2 separate regions of the Homo sapiens genome follow, and region 1 is linked to region 2. Evidence: fine-mapped expression QTL. A gene starts in region 2. The other region holds a variant in brackets. All regions are shown on one strand. Distances are from middle to middle.

The links. PIP is the estimated chance that this variant, and not a neighbour inherited with it, causes the effect.
Region 1: its variant is the best candidate, but not a certain one, in a credible set for the expression of TP53BP2 in whole blood (TOPMed, PIP 0.81).

The regions. Positions count from the first base shown.
Region 1 is chr1:224,053,154-224,056,066 of GRCh38, reverse strand. No RefSeq gene overlaps it. Among named protein-coding and RNA genes, the nearest start is that of FBXO28, 60 kb to the left of the region's middle. The variant T/C (reference allele first, on the strand shown) is at 1,739.
Region 2 is chr1:223,844,600-223,847,438 of GRCh38, reverse strand. It overlaps TP53BP2 (tumor protein p53 binding protein 2), which reads left to right and starts at 1,492. Exons shown (of 18, transcript NM_001031685.3): 1 at 1,492-1,785. The coding sequence starts at 1,759. RefSeq lists a silencer at 1,355-1,664.

The sequences.
Region 1 (2,913 bases), 210 kb before region 2:
CTGGCTCATCCACCAAGTCATTTTGTGAGGTCATGAAATGTATTGCCCTCTCTGTGCCTCAGTTTCTTCATTTGTAAAAATGGGTAAATAATAGTACATAGCTTAGAGTATTCTTGTGAGAATTAAATGCCTTAATGCTATTAAAAGGTTAGCATGGCTGGGTGTGGTAGTGCAGACCTGTAATCCCAGCACTTTGGGAGGCCAAAGTGGGAGGATCACTTGAGCACAAGAGTTCAAGACCAGCCTGGGCAACATGGGGAAACCTGTCTCTACAAAAAATAAATAAACTAGCGCCAGGCATGGTGGCGCATACCTGTGGTGCATAGCTGAGTGGTCCCAGCTACTCAGGAGGCAGAGGTGGGAGGATTGCTTAGCCCAGGAGGATGAGGCTCCAGTGAGCCATTCATGCCACTGCACTCCAGCCTGGGCGATAGAGTAAGACACTGTCTCAAAAATAAATTTTAAAAAATAAAATAAAAATTAAGAAGGTACAGTGTTTCATATATAAGCATTTAATACTTATCCACTACTATTTTGTAGTGGATATACTATGCTCTTGTTGCCCAGTCTGGAGTGCAATGGTGTGACCTCAGCTCACTGCAAACTCTGCCTCCCGGGTTCAAGCGATTCTCATGCCTCAGCCTCCCAAGTAGCTGGGATTACAGGCATGCGCCACCACACAGGGCTAATTTTGTATTTTTAGTAGAGGCGGGGTTTCACCATGTTGTCCAGGCTGGTCTCAAACTCCTGACCTCAGGTGATCCACTGGCCTCGGCCTCCCAAAGTGCTGGGATTACAAGCGTGAGCCACCGCGCCTGGCTCATCCACTACTATTATTTGTGAACATAGAAGGGCAAACTCTCCATTGGACCAGATGGGTACAGGACCTCAGGATTAATTAGGAGAACCTATGAGGCAAATCAATGCCTTCTCTCTAATGAGGGAAAAAAGCTGGTAGACCCACGGTATGGTCTGGCTCTGTGTCCCCACCCAAATCTCATCTTGAATTGTAATCCAAATTGTAATCCCCACATGTTGGGGGAGTGACCTCTTGGAAGGTAATTAGATCATGGGGGTGGTTCCACCCCATGCCATTCTCATGATAATGAGTGAGTACCATGAGATCTGATGGTTTTATAAACGTCTGGCATTCCCCCTGCTGGCACTTCTTCTCTCTCCTGCTACCATGTGAAGAAGGACTTGTTTGTTTCCCCATTCACCATGATTGTAAGTTTCCCAAGGCCTCCTCAGCCATGTGGATCTGTGAGTCAACTAAATTTCTTTCCTTTGTAAACTACCCAGTCTCGTGTATTTCTTCATAGCAGTGTGAAAATGAACTCATACAGTCCATGTAACCAAATAACCGAATCCCTTTCCCAATGATCACTATTACTACTCAACTTAAAAATGCTACTGATAGGAGAGTTGCAGGTAAACTCTCACCTTTTCTTACATGAATAATCTATCAGAAAATAGAGGTGAAGGATCTGATTTTTGAATGTTCCATTTTTGTGTTTTCTCTTTTCTCTTTCTAGAAATAATCCCAAACTTACAGCAGTGTTATGAAAAAAATTTCCACATTGCTTTACCCCAATTCTTAACATTTTGCCACATTTGCCTATCACTCCCTATGTTATTACTCTCTACGTATTCACATTACTTTTTTCCTAAATGATTGGTGCCCTTCTATGTCAAAATACTTTAGCAGAAATCTCCTAAGAACGTTCTCCTGCATAAC[T/C]ACATGTATTAGTCTGTTCTCAGGCTGCTATGAAGAATTACCTAAGACTGGGTAATTTATGAAGAAAAGAGGTTTCATTGACTCACAGTTCTGCAGGCTGTACAGGAAACATGACTGGGAGGCTTCAGAAACTTACAATCAGGGAGGAAGGTGAAGGGGAAGCAAGTGTGTTTTACCATGGTGAGGCAGGAGAGAGAGAGAGTGAAGGGGAAAGTGCTATGCACTTTCAAACAACCAGATCTTGTGATTACTCTATCACGAGAACAGCAAGGGGGAAGTCTGTCCCCATGATCCAATCACCTCCCACCAGGCCCCTCCTCCGACATGCAGGGATTACAATTCGACATGAGATTTGGGTGGGGACACAGAGCCAAACCCTATCACCGTGGCTCAATTAGAAAATTCAGGAAATTTAACCTAGATATAATATTGTTATCTAATATACAGTCCCTGTTCAAATTTTACCACTTGTCTTAATAATCTCCTTGAGATGACTCTTTAGTCTCCTTTAATCTGGAACAACTCCTCAGCTTTGGTTTATTTTTCATGACCTTGCTGTTAGGTGTGTAGGCCTGTAGTTTTAGAGACTGTCTCTCCGTTTGGGTTTGTTTCATGTTTTCTCATGATGAGATTCAGGCTATACATGAGAACATGGTGACAATAGCCGGAAGTGGTGGTTCATCCTTCCTGGGGCTGTACATCAGGAAACTCATAACTGTCAGTTTGTCCTGCTGTTGATGATGTTAATTATTTTCTGACGTTTTGATCGTTGACAAGCAGTATAAGAACCAGGGAAACAAAGAATAACCAATGTGTTGGAATCCAGTTAAGTGGAAGGACTTCTTAGGCGAGTGCCATGCATTACCTGAATTTTTTTGGTGTCTCTGTTTCCAAGTTTCCTTTTGGACACACCTTCTCATTTTCAATTTGTTTGGGAAAAGTAAATAATGATAGTACTGTGGCAAGATGAATTTAAGGAAGAAGGCTTTGAAACATCTCCTGACTAAGCCCAGGCTGGAGAAGATGGACTGAAGGGCTGGTGAAACCCCATCTTTGAGTAGCAGGTGTTAAGGTGGATGGGGTCATGAAGGGCATACTCTGGTCCTGGGACTTACCAAAGCCACAGGTGGACCCAAAGATGGGGAGGAGGGGCCTGATCCCCCCCTTAATGCCTT
Region 2 (2,839 bases):
TGCCCAGGCTGAAGTGCAGTGGGGTGATCTCTGCTCATTGCAACCTCCGCTTCCCAGGTTCAAGAGATTCTCCTGCCTCAGCCTCCCGAGTAGCTGGCATTACAGGCATGCGCCACCATGCCCGGCTAATTTTTATATTTTTAGTAGAGACAAGGGTTTCACCACGTGGCCAGGCTGGTCTCGAACTCCTGACCTCAGGTGATCTGCCCGCCTCGGCCTCCCAAAGTGCTGGGATTACAGGCGTGAGCCACTGCGCCCGGGCGAGAACGTTAAATTCTAGTTGAATTAACCGTAATTTAGTATTTCCAGATACAGTATCTGGGATGGTGCAATAGGGAGTTCGATGGAGATTCTGGTAAGGGATATGGTGGGCTAAGAAAGAATTGTCTGTTCTTGATACTAGATAAACCCAGGGGATTTACCCCACTTCAGGTTCTAGAATCATGTATAAAGGCAGAGAAAAGTGATTCTGAGTGAACTTGCACTGACAACTTACTAGAACAAAGCTTCCTGGAGTTAGGGTTCCCGCAGTATGTGTCTCTCTGGAAGGTGGAATAAAAGCCTGAACCCGCTCTGCTACTCTTTGGAAGGCAGCCCTGCCATTTCCCTAGGCCTTGGCCTCCCTCCCTGGAAAAGGATGGTATCCACCGGCTCCCCGTATCGGAGGCTGTTTGCAGGGTGTTCCCAGCACCCCCCAGGGAAGCTCCTCAGAATGCTGCCTGACACATTTTTACAAAATTTATTTTTATTGTGGTAAAACATACACAACATAAAAGTTATCCCTTTATCCAGTTTGCGGTGTACGTTTGTTAACCTTACAGCAAGTAACACATGAGTTTTAAATTAGAATTTGGACAACGGCAAATGAGATGAAAGGCGAACAATCCGAAAGCCGGATCACTGAGGAGCTCTGGGAACGCGCCGCGAGCTGAAGCCACACGGGGAACTCCATTTTGTCGGGACAGGGTCGGTCCTGGCCGCCTCCAGGGAGTCGGGTAGTTTCCGCGGCGTGGCCCGGGCCTCCCCTGAAGTCCGTCCGCCTCTCTCCGCCTGGCCCAGCGGCGCGGCCGCCGGAGGACTCTGTCCACGCGCCCAACGTCGGGCGCCCTGTTCTGAAGGCAAAGGGTCCCCTGCCTCGCACGACTCGGAGCCGCCGAGGAGGTGACGGCGGCAGCCCTGGGGCGGCTCGGTGCCATTCACTACCATCCTGTTTTCCTGAGGCGCGGCCTTCCAATTGCCCCGGCTCCGCTAGGAGGCGCGCGCTCCAGCCGCTCCGCCGCGCGGCCCCGACCGCACTTCAGTCCGGGGCGAAGAAAGAAAAGGCGGCCGGCTCCCGCCGCTCCCCGTCTACCCAGCCGGGCCCGCGCAGGCGCGCGCAGCTCCCGTTCCCGCGGCCGCCCCTCCCCCAGGCCGCCGGGCGCGCCGCGGGCGGGGTCGGCGCGGGGGGCGGAGCCGGCACGGGCTCGGCTGGGGCCCGACCCGGGATTAGTTGGTTTCGGAGCGGAGGAGGGAGCCCCGACCGTCACGAGCGTCGAAGAGACAAAGCCGCGTCAGGGGGCCCGGCCGGGGCGGGGGAGCCCGGGGCTTGTTGGTGCCCCAGCCCGCGCGGAGGGCCCTTCGGACCCGCGCGCCGCCGCTGCCGCCGCCGCCGCCTCGCAACAGGTCCGGGCGGCCTCGCTCTCCGCTCCCCTCCCCCGCATCCGCGACCCTCCGGGGCACCTCAGCTCGGCCGGGGCCGCAGTCTGGCCACCCGCTTCCATGCGGTTCGGGTCCAAGATGATGCCGGTAAGTGGGCGAGCGGCCAGGGCGTCGGGCCCGGAAGTGTGCGGGGTCGCGTGCCGGGGGCTGGTCCGCGCCCTCGGGCGCGTCGGGGAAGGAGCCTGGGGGCCGCAGCCCGCGCGGAGGGGCCGGGGCTTTCCGAGCTTCGAGCGGGTTTCAGGAAGGGGAGGCTCCATCCTCTGGGCTCTGCGCCCACAGCCGTCGTGGGGGCGCGGCGAGACCCTAACCTCGAGGCGGGTTCCTCCAGCTGCTCCGGAGTCAGGCGAGCCGCCCGCGAGCCCAGCAGCCACTCAAACTTTTCGTCTTTCACTGGGTCTTGACTTTTTTGCAGTTCTTGAAGGTCAAGAATACGGGAACCGGGGACCTTGTTCTTTGCTGTGTCTTTTTACTTTTTACTGGAGTGAAACATACGTTACTGGAACGGGTACCTTTGCTTTGTTTTTAATTGAATTTCGATCTTGATATCCACAGTAGCAGCTAAGTCACCCTTACCTCTTTGTGGAAAGGGGTTTTGGTAAATGCAATCTCGGAAGTTTTAGATTGCAGGAAAGCGTACGTGCCTGGCTCCCTTCGTTTCCCACAGCTTTTAGCAAGACCTCCGGAGAGGATTAGTGCCTTCTTTAGGAGCTCCGCAGGCTTTTGACACGGCCACCAGGCCACAGATGAACAGCAGGTTTGAGACATTTCAGAAATGTCTCTGTCATTCAGCGATCGCGGAATGGAGGTTTGCGGTGTGTTGCGGTGGCTTCTGCAGACTTCAGTAGCGAGTTTCTTCGTGGAAGTTGTATTTGCACCTCTCCCACTGAAGTGGGGACATCTTGCAGGCATCCTATGCTTGTGGCTCCATTTGTTCAGACAAAGAAACAAAAAGCTTTTACTTTTATGAAGTCTGTGGAATGGAGTGATGACAAAGTTTGCAGTCATACATACAGAGTATAATATGCTGTTCCCTGGCCCCCTGCTTGTGTCATGGAGGGCGTCCCAAACTCTCACTGGGTCGACTTAACAATTCACTAGAATTAGTAATTGGGTTTAGAGGGTTTGGGATATTTTGTCCTGC